Regions from separate parts of the Homo sapiens genome. Here regions 1 and 3 are each reported to be linked to region 2. The links are microRNA targets in miRTarBase. Many come from high-throughput screens and were not tested one by one. Region 2 holds a microRNA gene; each other region holds the end of a gene's coding sequence.

Region 1 (4,243 bases), not on the chromosome of region 2:
ACATCCAAAGAGTGAGGCCAAGAGTGTCGTGAAACAGGATCGGCTGCTTGGCTTGCTGATGCCATTTAGGGCATTTGGAGATGTAAAGTTCAAATGGAGCATTGACCTTCAAAAGAGAGTGATAGAATCTGGCCCAGACCAGTTGAATGACAATGAATATACCAAGTTTATTCCTCCTAATTATCACACACCTCCTTATCTCACTGCTGAGCCAGAGGTAACTTACCACCGATTAAGGCCACAGGATAAGTTTCTGGTGTTGGCTACTGATGGGTTGTGGGAGACTATGCATAGGCAGGATGTGGTTAGGATTGTGGGTGAGTACCTAACTGGCATGCATCACCAACAGCCAATAGCTGTTGGTGGCTACAAGGTGACTCTGGGACAGATGCATGGCCTTTTAACAGAAAGGAGAACCAAAATGTCCTCGGTATTTGAGGATCAGAACGCAGCAACCCATCTCATTCGCCACGCTGTGGGCAACAACGAGTTTGGGACTGTTGATCATGAGCGCCTCTCTAAAATGCTTAGTCTTCCTGAAGAGCTTGCTCGAATGTACAGAGATGACATTACAATCATTGTAGTTCAGTTCAATTCTCATGTTGTAGGGGCGTATCAAAACCAAGAATAGTGAGTGGCTCTTTCACTGGCAATTCTCAAATGATATACATTTAAAGGGCAGATTTTTTAAAAAGATACTACTATAATAAACATTTCCAGTTGGTCATTCTAAGCATTTACCCTTTTGATACTCTAGCTAGTCAGGTACTCCAAATTGACTTTGCAGCAGGGTGGCAGGGTCAGGAGAGTCTGGTCCTGCCTAGCTCAGATTTCATGGCACCTGCACTTGAAGCAAGTCACTTCTTTATCACAGGTGTCTTGAAACATTAGCTTCTTTTACCAACCTGAGAAAATTAGGATGACCTGGCAAATAAGATCTTGAATAGGCCAAAAGCAAGTATCTTGCTGTGTGTAGTCTCTTGGTTAAAGTGAAGAAACAGTACTGTTCACACCTTTCTTCACTGAGATTCCAGTGTACATGAGAACATATATTTATTGCATGATTTTCTAGATACACAGTCTATGCATTATTCATATACATTTATTTTAGCCTAAAGTGGTTTTCAAATCCAGTTCTTCAAGCCATAAATGACCAAGATCCAAGCAATCTGAATTTGTTTTTGTGATTATTTGACTGGAATGCTTCTTAAGTGGAATAACTATACTCCGTTATCCACCCGATTTCCTAATGTAATTGAAAGATTTTCTATTTTGCCACACACTTGGAGACAATAAGGGTTTTTAGTTTTATCTACTCTTCTATTGAAGTTAAAGAAAGAAAAAAAGATTTTTTTATTTGTATTAATGAAAAGCTTTAGTTTAAAATAAGGAGATCCAGAATAAAAAGAAGAGACTGATCTCTTCAATTATTGTCATCTGTAGCCACCAGCACATCACTCTTATGTAATCCCCAAAGGCTTGGCATGCCGTAAGTGTGTGGTGGGTAGACTGCTGCCGGGGAATCGTACTTCTTATTTAGTAATGATAAGACTTTTCATTATTTTTGGAATTTTAAAGATGACATAAATAAGTTTAAATATCAATTTGGGGAGTAAGGTTTAATATTGCCATCGGGTATTGAGACAGGAGGAAGTTTCTGTTTTTCTCCATTTAGACATAGGTCAATTAAAATATTTGGGTTTAAAATGACTAAATGCTTTAAACATATTGTAGCTTAAGATATATGTGTTAAGATATATACATGAGAAACTTTAAAAGGTAACTACTGTGCATGCCTGATGCTTAATAGAATACTTAGTGGCATCAAATGTTTGCAGCAGTCTCCATAATTATATTCAGTCCCTTCTAATACTGTATCAATGTAAATGAAATAAATATATTCAAATTGGCTTTTTGATATGCATCAAGTGGCATTTTGTTCCTGTGTTTAATAGTGATCTGTATACAGCTGTGCACATATTGTCATCACTTATTCTAGCATCACTGTTAAGGCTGTGATTATGTTTGATATTCACCTGGATTTTAATACAAGCCAATATCAGCTTCCCATTGTGTAATAACTTGGGTGTTTAGGAGTCTTTTCACATTTTTTGGGGATATGAACTAGATGTTCAAGAACTCCTTCTGGACTGTGGATACTGAATCAGTGTACTATTGGCTGCAGAATTTGTTTCAATTGAAAATAGACTCAGGAAGATTGCTGCTCAGAATATCATATAATGTTTATTTTTTGAGGTGTTTTTGTTTTTATTTGTGTGTTTTTTTTTTTTTAAGTCAGCTTGGAACTTTTTTCCTGGGTAGTATTTGGGAGAGGGAAAGGCTGTACTATATATTTATTTCTAAATGTTTTGACTGGGCATTTTTCTTTTAATGAAATATGTGGACTGCTCTAGCAAACCCTATTTTCAGCTACTATTTGAATATTCTTGAACACCACCACTGAAGAGTTTCATATACACCAAATAATGTCTCATCTCTATAGTACAGGGAATATAAAATTGGTTTCCTGTGGTCATGATCAAGATAGTAGTATTATTACACAAGAAACTTGGTCTGCAGTCTGGAAGCTTGTCTGCTCTATAGAAATGAAAATGCAGCATGAAGTTGACATTGTGGAAATGAAAGTAATTGGGTATTAGAAATCTGAAAGTACTGTCATCTAAAAGCAATTGTGATTTTATTGTAATTGGTTGTCACTGTTGTACGGTGTCTAGAATTAAAGAATACATGTAAACTTTCATGGTATTTAGCCTTTCTTAAATTTTTTTAAAATTTAAACTTTCTAACCTATGTATTCAACTTCTGTATTTATATTTAATCAGTGGTTCATGTTATATAATACACCCTTAACTAGTTAAATGGAATGTTGGTATGGTACAGAGTACCATATTGCTAAGAAAACTGTCTTATAAAAGATGTATATGTGTGAAGACATGAAAGTTTAATGTACAGAATGGTTGGAGAAATGCCTATGGTGAATTAAAGCTTCATATCTGCTTTCTGAATGTCCTGTGTTGGTTTTTAATAACAAGATTGATTAGATGCTTCCTATGTGTGGTAGATTATATTTAATTTTAGGACCCAGTAGATACATAGTACTTCAAATTTGTAAAAATTGAGGTAAAATTTTTTTTCTTTTTTTTTTGAGATGGAGTCTCGCTCTGTCACCCAGGCTGGAGTGCAGTGGTGCGATCTCATCTTACTGCAGCCTCTGCCTCCTGGGTTCAAGCAGTTCTTCTGCCTCAGCCTCCCAAGTAGCTGGGACTACAGGTGCGGGCCACCACACCTGGCTAATTTTTGTATTTTTAGTAGAGATGGGGTTTCACCATGTTGGCCAGGCTGGTCTTCAACTCCTGACCTTGTGATCCACCCGCCTCGGCCTCCCAAAGTGTTTGGATTACAGGTGTGAGCCACCATGCCTGGCCAAAATTGAGGTATAATTTAAACAAAATGCACAGATTTAAAATTTGCGATGTAACATTTGGTAACACCCCAACAAAGATATAAAACTTTTTCTTCAGAAAATTCCCTATGCCCCTTTCCATTAATCCCTCCCCTCATAAGTATCATTCCACTTCTCTCACCATAATTTTGCTTCTAGAAATTTATATAAATCATACATGTACTTTTTTTTTTTTTCAGACAGTCTTGCTCTGTCGCCCTGGCTGGAGTGCATGATCTCGGCTCACTGCAGCCTCCGCATCCTGGGTTTGAGCAATCATCCTGCCTCAGCCTCCCAAGTAGATGGGACTACAAGCATGTGCCACCACACATGGCTAACTTTTGTATTTTTGGTGGAGACGGGATTTCACCATGTTAGCCAGACTGGTCTCAAACTCCTGACCTCAAGTGATCTGCCCACATCAGCCTCCCAAAGTACTGGGATCACAGGCGTAAGCCACTGCACCTGGCCCACATATGTACTTTTTATGTTTTACTTTTGCTCAATTTTTGGAGATTCACTTATGTTGTTGATTGTATTCATAGTCTGTTCCTTATTACTGGGTAGCATTCCAGTGTTTGAATGTATCACAATTTATCCATTCTCTATTGATGGATGTTGTCAGTCTCCCCCTGCCCCCCTTTAAAGATAATTTTTAGATTAATAATTCTCAGAAATGCTGTTTGGTTAAGGTGTAGCTTTAACTTTGCAAATAATGATTACAGGTAAGTTTTCTGTTAAAGCTTTGATGATAGGACCCTTAATGCCCTTAAAACAAAT
Region 2 (4,233 bases):
TAACTGACAGAACAGTCTTTTAAAGAATAAACTGATGTAACACTCCTGCTTAAAGCTTTTCAATGGCTCCTGATTCAGCTGTGAAAGAAATCCCTACTGTGTGGCACCAGGACCTGTGTGACCTGCAAGGCGCCTGTTTTCCTCAACAAAGCCTCTTTTATACCACTTGCTCCCCACACCACCCTGGCCCCTTCCACTTGCTCAAAAACACTGAGCTCCTTTTCACTGTGGGGCCATTGAATATGCTGTTTTCCCTCCCTAGAACCTTTTCCTCTCATTCTTCACCTGCCCAACTCATATTTATCCATGCAGCCTCAGTTTTAATGGCATTTCCTCCCAGGCCTTCCAAGACCACTCTCCCTCAGGCAGCTTTCCTGACATCTTTAGCCTGCCCGCTCATGCTCTCTACCTTTTTTCTGTATCAAAATGCCTTTGTTTGCAAGTAACAGAAGGCCTGACTTAACCTGCCTTTAAACAGTAAGGACACAAGTATGCCTATGTTATTAGAGGTCTGCAGGTAAGGCACGTAAAGGGTCATCTTTTTCCAGTGTCTTCAACTCCATTTCTCTGAGGTTCCATCAGCTACATTCTGTGCCATGACTTTATCCTCAGTGCATTTTTCAGATGGTAATCAAATGGCTGTAACATGTTCACCTCTAGCTCAGCATGATACTCAGAGGAAGAATAGAGTTGCTTCTAGGAGTTTTGTGATGAGAATGAGGGAATTTCTTTCCCTGGAGCCTCCAGCAAGCTTGTCATTAAGTACCTCCTCAGGTTTCTGGCTCGAGTTGCATCTCATGCACACCTCTCAATCTATCCCTGTGGCAGAGAATGTCTCTTATTGAAAAAATGGCCTGGGTTTGCCTGTCTCTGAACTAACACTGCATCAGGAGAATGGGATTGCCTTGATCACCCAAGATCAGTGATTCTCAAAGTGTGGTTTATGGAGCAGCATGACCTGGGCACTTGTTAGAAATGGAGTTTTTCTGGCCCCACCCCAGACCTACTGAATAAGAATCTCTGTGCTCTGTGCATGGAGTGGGGCCCACTCATCTGTGGTTTAACAAGCCTTCCAGGTGATTCTGGCACATGTTAAAGTTTGAGGACCCCTGGCCAAGACTAGTAAGGATCTAGTTCTGGAGCTGAAGTCAGTCCCATCAAATATAATATATGGTGGAGGGTAGGGTGCGACAAGGGGTATTTCGGGGAGACAACCACAGTGACCACTGCACCTTTATAGCACTCATCACAATTTGTAATTATGCATTTGTTTGTGTCATTATTTGTGTAATATCTGTCTCCCCCAACAACACTCTAAACTCTACAATGACAGGGACTCAGTCTAGCTTGTCAGAGTAGCCTCAATACCGGCTATAGAACCTGCTTTATATATGCTGAGCGTTCAATAAGTTCTTGATGAAAAAGTAATAGAAGATATTTCTTGTGCCTCTCAGTTCTGTCATCAGTTGGTTCCGTTCCATTTGTTTCTCTCACAGTCGGGGGTGATATGTGTGTGCACGCCTACCTCAGCGGGCAGCCCTTGGAGGAATCACAGCTGAGCATGCTGGCCTGCTTCCTCGTCTACCACTCTGTGCCAGCTCCACAGCACCTGCCACCTATAGGACTAGAAGGTAATTGCATATCTAAGTCTTATCTTCAGTACCTCTGTTACCTACCCCTTTACGTTCTAGTTTCTCAGTAGTTACTGCCCCTAGTTTGACTTTCCTCTTCATTAATGTTGCAGTGTCATTGTTAGGGACTGTTTTGGAGCAAAAAAGAAAAAATTATCAACTTTATATATGAATAACTTTCATTTTTATTCAGAAAAGGATGGATTCTTCTTCACAGAGCCCCAAACACTGATCTATACTAATAAACTAAATATTCCATATTATTCTTTACTAATTGATTTTTTTATTAAAGCTATTTTTCTTTATTTTCTAGGTTTTCAGTTGGGTTTTTTAGAATCACATATAATCTTAATTTCTAATATTACAAAGCTTTACAACTAATAAATACCTAATTTTGTGTTTGAATTTTTTTATAATAGTTTTAAAAATTAATAGTATTATCACCTGATTGTATTTTTCAGAATACAGAAACAGATAAAAAAAATTTATCCATTAAGCTGAATACTAAGATATGATGAATTCTAAGCACCCAATTTTTCTGAGATTCTCAAAAAAAATATTTTCTGATAAGGGCAAAGATTGTTCCATTTAATCATTTAAACTTGAAGTTTAATTACATTACTAGTTTTTTGCTGTTTTGCAAGCCTCTGATAAAAGTTTACTATCTAGAGACTTCTGGTTATGGCCATGATGGAATTGCTTGTATTGGACTCACTTGCCCTCAAAAACAAATATAAAAGCTAAAAAAAAAAAAAATAAGAAAAGGGAAGTACAACAGGGAGAGCTTTATATTCACCCTAGCTTCTCCCCCAAAGGCATTTGCCAGTTCATAGTACAAGAAGTAGAGTGCCAGCAAAAAGCAGCAATGCTGCAGGGCTGAGGAGCCAGAGGTTGGGTTTGTGATTGCCCAAGAGCCTAGAACTTGAGGAACACAGTCTCAGGCAGGAGAGAACGATAGAAATCATAACTCAGACTCTGGATATACCTTTCCCTTGAGTTACTTAATGATATTTTAGCCTTCATATACATGGGATAAGACTTCAAGAGATCTAGCAGAAGCCACAAGGCCAAAAATGTAAGCAAAAATGTCAGCAGCAGCATAGGACTGAGGAGACAAAGGGTGGAATTCAACGCTTGTTAAAGTGAAGTGGCTCTGATCAGCATCCCAGCTCCTCAGGTGAATTAATACATGGCCAAGCCCTAAGCCTGCTCTAGCCTAATTTTAGATCTGGTCTGCTTCAGTTTCACTCCAAGCAGACTTGACCTACAATTAGCCTAGAGCAGAACTAAGGTGATCTGTGTGCTTTCTCCCCACCTGACAGAAGAAAATGTAACCTTCATAGGAGAAAGAAAACATACCCAGAGCCCCCACAATTTTTAGTCTACAGGATTCAGTGTTGAATCAAAAATTATGAAACATAATAATAATAAAAAAACAGATAATAGAAACAGACTTATGTGTGATTCAGATATTGGAGTTATCATACTGGAACTTAAAATAACTATGTCTAATGTTTCCAGGAAAATAGAAGGAATGATAGGGAATTTCACCAGAAACCTGGGGTCAATAAAAAAGAGTTAAATGGAAATTCTAGAACTGAAAAATATAGTAACTGAAATGAAGATCTCAGTATTGGATTATTTGAAGTGAACTGGAAGACACTTATCTGCTGGAAGACAAGTAGAAAGTAAACAAACTGAAGCACAGAGGGAAGAATGGTTAGGAAATACAGAGAAGAGTACAAGAGACATGTGGAAACCGTGAAAAAAAAAATAAACATGCATGGGGTTGGAATAAGAGAATAAGAGGAGAGAAAAAATGAGTTAGAAGCAATATTTGAAGAGACAGAAGCTAAGAATTTTGAAAAATGGTGTTAAATATTAACCCACAGTGAACCCTAAGCAGGATAAATACAAAGAAAACCATACCTAGTCACATTAATAGTCAAACTACTAAAAGGAAAAGGAAGACATTTTAAAAGTATAGACTTCTTTTCAGGCCAGGCTGGACAAACAGGGTTGTTCAATGGTCAACTGTATTAGAACCAGTAAAATACCACTTAGATAGTATTTGAAGGTAGACAGGCACTTTTGCACATTATATTTAAAGAATTTATATATATATATATATATATATATATAAAATTAAACAATATTAGTAGTTTCACATGTAGTTATAGGTCACTTTCTGAAGTCTAGAATGGGTAAATTCTATCAAATCATATACAGGTTTGAGTATCCTTAATCTGAAATCTGAAGTGTTTGAAATCGAAAACGTTTTGAGCACCAACATGATGCTCAGAGGAAATGTTCATTACAGCATTTTGGATTTGGGATTTTTGGATTAAGAATGCTCAGCCGAGGCTGGGCGCAGTGGCTCATGCCTGTAATCCCAGCACTTTGGGAGGCCGAGGCCGGCGGATCACGAGGTCAGGAGATCGAGACCATCCTGGCTAACACGTTGAAACCCCATCTCTACTAAAAATACAAAAAAAATTAGCTGGGCGTGGTGGTGGGCACCTGTAGTCCCAGCTACTCGGGGGGCTGAGGCAGGAGAATGGGTGAACCCAGGAGGTGGAGTTTGCAGTGAGCCGAGAGAGCG
Region 3 (4,243 bases), not on the chromosome of region 2:
AGATTGGGTTTCACCATGTTGACCAGGCTAGTCTTGAATTCCTGACCTCAAGTGATCCACCAGCCTTGGCCTCCCCAAAGTGGTGGGATTGTAGGTGTGAGCTGCCACACCCAGTTTTTTTGTTTTTTTTGTTTGAGACAGTCTTGCTCTGTTGCCCAGGCTGGAGTGTGCAGTGGCACAGTCTCAGCTCACTGCAACCTCTGCCCCCGGGGTTCAAGTGATCCTCCAGCCTGGGCCTCCCAAGTAGCTGAGATTACAAGTGTGCACCACCAGGCCCATCTAGTTTTTGTATTTTTAGTAGAGACAGGGTTTCACCGGGTTGGCCAGAACTTCTGACCTCAGGTGATCCACCTGCCTCGGCCTCCCAGAGTGCTGGGATTACAGGTGTGAGCCACTGCGCCCGGCTTTTATCTTTACATCGAACCAAAGAGGATGCCAAGGATCTTCACTGGCTCTCACATAAGACGGCCATGATCAGGTACTGGCTCACTGCATGGCCCAGGCTGCTGCTTTCTCTGATACAACCTCCCCGAGCCTCCTCACCTCAGCTTTTTAAATTTTTTTTCAGACAGGGTCTCACCCCGTGGCCCAGGCTGGACTTGCGATCACAGCTGGCTGCAGCCTCAACCTCCTGGGCTCAAGCGATCCCAGGAGCTGTGGGTAAATCGAGTGAACTGCACTGTGTTGAAGGTGCAGGATTGGAGTCCGGGTGCTGGGGGACTCACCCTCTCGCTCCTGGAGTCCAGAAGCCAGGACACCTTGGTCACTGTCCTGTGGCCTGCTTCACCCCAGGGCCCTCCTTCAGAAATTAGTTGGAGTTTTTTTTAGTAACTGCTCAAGTCAGCTATGAGTCACTGACCAAAGGACAAAGTGGTGCTGAACAGTGACTGCCAGGCTCCTATCTGAGGCTCAGAGAGCACTTGTTCTAGACGCTTTCTGTTGTCACAGGGAAAGACAGCTCAAGCAGGAACACAGGCAGTGTGTCACCCCCAGGCCTCACTCCTTGCTGCACCTGTGCAGTCTGGCCTTCCTGGGCTTTGTCCTTCACCTGCTGTTTGACCACATGTACCTGTCCACAAAGCAGTGACTGTGGGGCAGTCGCAGGGCTGACAGGTGCGGCAGAGGCAGAAGAGGCACCCAAGGGCGGCGGGGCCGTCAAACACTGACGCACTCTCCTCCTCCCCCAGATGTTAGCACTTTAAGAAACTTATCGAGGAGCCAAGGTTGGGAGGGATCGGCTGGGGAAGTGGGATCCCCACCTTTAAATGGACCATGCACATACACGTAAAACAGTGATATCTTGGAGACAAGTTATCAAATCCCCCCACACTGAGCAGATGCCAGACAACAGTTGAGTGCGCAGGAAGGACACACCAGGACCAGGCAGTTGCTTCAGGCGCTTTTATTAGGTTCCACTGCAGGGCTGGGGTCAATGTAATGCAAATCCAAGCCCAGTGATGCACACCTGTGAGCCGAAACAGAGCCGAAGCAGGAGCACCTGTGTCCCAGGAGCAGCTGGTTGGAGGGAGCCAGGGCCAGGCCCCACCTCCTCTCGGGACCAGGAGACTGGCAGCCGCTGTGTTCACCTGGGCAGGTGTGCACCCAGTCACCCCCACTGGATTATGGTGCTGGTAGCATGAGAGGGTGTGTCCACACCAAGGGCAGGTGAAGATGCGAGGTGGGGCTGAGACCTCCTTCCCACAAGAGGAGGTGGCTGAGCCTCCCAGGGCCTGAACTCTCACAGCAGGGCTCACCCCCAAGCCTGTATGCTTAGCTCTGACTCTCTTTGGACAATAAAATAAAGTGCATTACTGAACAAAGAGTAACTCAAAACCAGAATCAGACAAATCGCCAATGCTTTTCCTTTAGCTAAAAGACAAAAGAAAACATGAATGATGTGAATGCCGGAACTTCAGAGTAAGGGAAATGCTGGTGGAGGACAACGGAAACTATAATAGCGTGGTGGATAAGGACGAGCGAGTGGGAGAGGAACTGGCAACGCGGCTCTCTCTAGAAGTCCGTGCTGTCCAGCCTCTGCCCAGTGGTGGGGGAAGGCCTTGGACTCACAGGGAAGCAATGCAGGAAGCCTTGGCCACCTAGGCTCACAGCTCATCTCAGGACCAGAGGAGACAGCAGAGGACAAAACTTCAGTGTGACAGCTGCTAGGAGGGAGAGCAGACAGCCCGCGGTGGGCAAGCTGGGAGTTGCATCCGCAGCAGTCCGCTTCAACCCAGCTCCTCTCCACCCTTCCTGACCCTCCACAATAGCTCTGCCGTGACCAGACCCAACCCAACTGGCCCCTGGTCCCAAGAGCAGATGAGCTGCTTGGGCCTTCCACTTGGTGTCCCATGCCAGGCGGACCTGGAGGTGTCAGCCATGGCCCTGACCACTTCAGAAGCCAACAGGCAAATGTTCTCTGTTCATAGTGCCAAGAATGTGGGTCACGTGGGCTTACCCCCCAGGATGGACACAGAAGTCCCTAAGCAGTCTGCAGCTGGGCCAGCCTCTCCCGTGGGTGCAGAGCAGCCCAGATGTGGCCATCATTAAGGCAAAGAAGCATCGAGATGCCCACCACTCCCCGGGTAAGAGCCATGCCCCGGCCTGGCCACGCCACAGAGGAACGCAGAGCACACAAGCAGGACCCCACCACGTGCTGTTCCAGATCGCCCAGTCTCCCTCTATTGGTACACTATCAATTGTGCAGTGCCCCAGGGAGGTCCCAAATGGCCCTCACAAGAGGCACAGCCCCTAACGCCCTCAGCCAGGCGGTGCAGTGGGACGAAGCAGCGTATTGGGGAGGGCCAGAGCATCGGCACCGGTGACCCAGCTCTCCCACCCAGGCCATCGCAGGGCAGCCTCAGGGCAGGCGCCACCACTGCTCCTGCTCAGCCCGCAGTATCTGCAGTTGCTGCAGCTGTGTGGCTTGGTAGAAAAGTCTCAGGCACTGAGGTTTACTTCAAGGGAGAACTGACTGGTGCCCCCGTCCACACTCATCACCCTGGACACAACCTCGGGGGCTTCACTAAAGGAGGGAAGGATGTGGAAACTAGTCTCTCTCACTCCCCTTTTGTGCAGTTTTTATCTTAAAAAAAAATAAATAAAAGTCTTCTGGGCAGGAATTACTGATAACTGTTATTATAACCAATGCAGACTTTAAAATCCCACCTGGACATCGGGTGAGAGGAGGAGGGCAGGCAGCAAACCGACCTGCAGACCTGCAGAGGGGAGCCGTGTCCAGGGCCACTGCGTCCCCACCAGACAACAGCTACTAGAAGAGGAAAGTGGCCCTCACAGGCAGGGTGCCTGCCACCAAGCAGTCAGACAAGGGGGTAACCAAGAGCTCCCAGCCAGAAAAACATGGGGGCAGGGAGGCCAAACAAAAAGCACTGAAAATAAAGAGAAGGCTGGGTGGTGGCAGCATCGGCCCCTCCCTGTGCGCCCCAATTCCAGGTGCCACGTAGAGGCGAGAGGTCTTTCCAACACGGCGGGGGACTTGTCAACAGGATTAGGCGTGAGGAGCCGCTCTGCGTTTCCAGTCTGGAGACTGCATTCAGCCTGCAGAATACCAGCCGTGGCGCCCGCTCTCCAGGGAGGAACGTGCTGAGAAGCTTCAGTGGGTCAGGGAGCCCAGGACAGCCAGCCCCTTGTTCCTCCAGGGCTGCCCACTATGGGGCAGTTACAGGGAACACACTCAGCAACGCTTCTGGCTTCAGGAAGGGCTGGGCTGGGCCCGGTCCTAGCCAGCAGAGGGCAGGCGCCCTAGGTCCTGGGGAGGCTGCACATCTCGCAGTGGCCTGTGCCTGGCTGGTTCATGAACGTGCAGTGCTGACAGGCCCACATGGCTGCAGTGGCCGTGTGTGTGGAGCCCCCGACGGCGCCGTACTCATGGAGACCTGGGAGCTGCCCGCCAACTGTGCCTGCAGGGTGGAAGAGAAATGAGCACTCATCATTTCTGGCCCACCAGAGACTGCCAGAGTGTGGGCATGGGGGCAGGGGCAGGCAGCTGAGAGCTCCCCGCCCCCAACATCCCACCCAGTGCTGGTCCTGCCCACACAGCACTCCCACCACAGGCACACTTTGAAGTGCTTAATGCCCTCAGAAAAATGCCTCCTGCACCACAGGGAGTAACAGGGAGCCTGTGCTTGCTGGTTCCTTTTTGTTGCAGAGGGTGCTTCTCCTTGTGAATAACGTAACTCCCCGGGGGATGTGCATTTGGGTTGTTTCCAGCTTTTTTTTTTTTTTT

The links. Region 2 holds the annotated microRNA hsa-miR-4771 (AGCAGACUUGACCUACAAUUA, at 2,884-2,904, shown strand). A microRNA usually pairs through its seed, bases 2 to 8, with sites in the 3' UTR of a target mRNA and lowers its output. Matches are read on the target gene's strand: a 7mer-m8 pairs with bases 2 to 8, a 7mer-A1 pairs with bases 2 to 7 and ends in A, and an 8mer does both.
Region 1: the mRNA of PDP1 is a reported target of hsa-miR-4771. Seed matches in the 3' UTR shown: 7mer-A1 at 2,573-2,579.
Region 3: the mRNA of NPLOC4 is a reported target of hsa-miR-4771. Seed matches in the 3' UTR shown: 7mer-A1 at 3,209-3,215 and 8mer at 3,146-3,153.

What each region holds. Positions count from the first base shown.
Region 1 is chr8:93,923,043-93,927,285 of GRCh38, forward strand. PDP1 (pyruvate dehydrogenase phosphatase catalytic subunit 1) reads left to right here. Exons shown (of 2, transcript NM_018444.4): 2 at 1-3,026. The coding sequence ends at 631. Among named protein-coding and RNA genes, the nearest start is that of PDP1, 8.2 kb to the left of the region's middle.
Region 2 is chr2:87,191,947-87,196,179 of GRCh38, forward strand. MIR4771-1 (microRNA 4771-1) reads left to right here and starts at 2,840; the gene lies at 2,840-2,913. It also overlaps the pseudogene LOC102724642.
Region 3 is chr17:81,555,500-81,559,742 of GRCh38, forward strand. NPLOC4 (NPL4 homolog, ubiquitin recognition factor) reads right to left here. Exons shown (of 17, transcript NM_017921.4): 17 at 1,388-3,917. The coding sequence ends at 3,760. It overlaps LOC124904085 (a long non-coding RNA gene), which reads left to right. Exons shown (of 2, transcript XR_007065947.1): 2 at 1-1,820. Among named protein-coding and RNA genes, the nearest start is that of FAAP100, 5.3 kb to the left of the region's middle. RefSeq lists enhancers at 3,212-3,713, 3,714-4,213.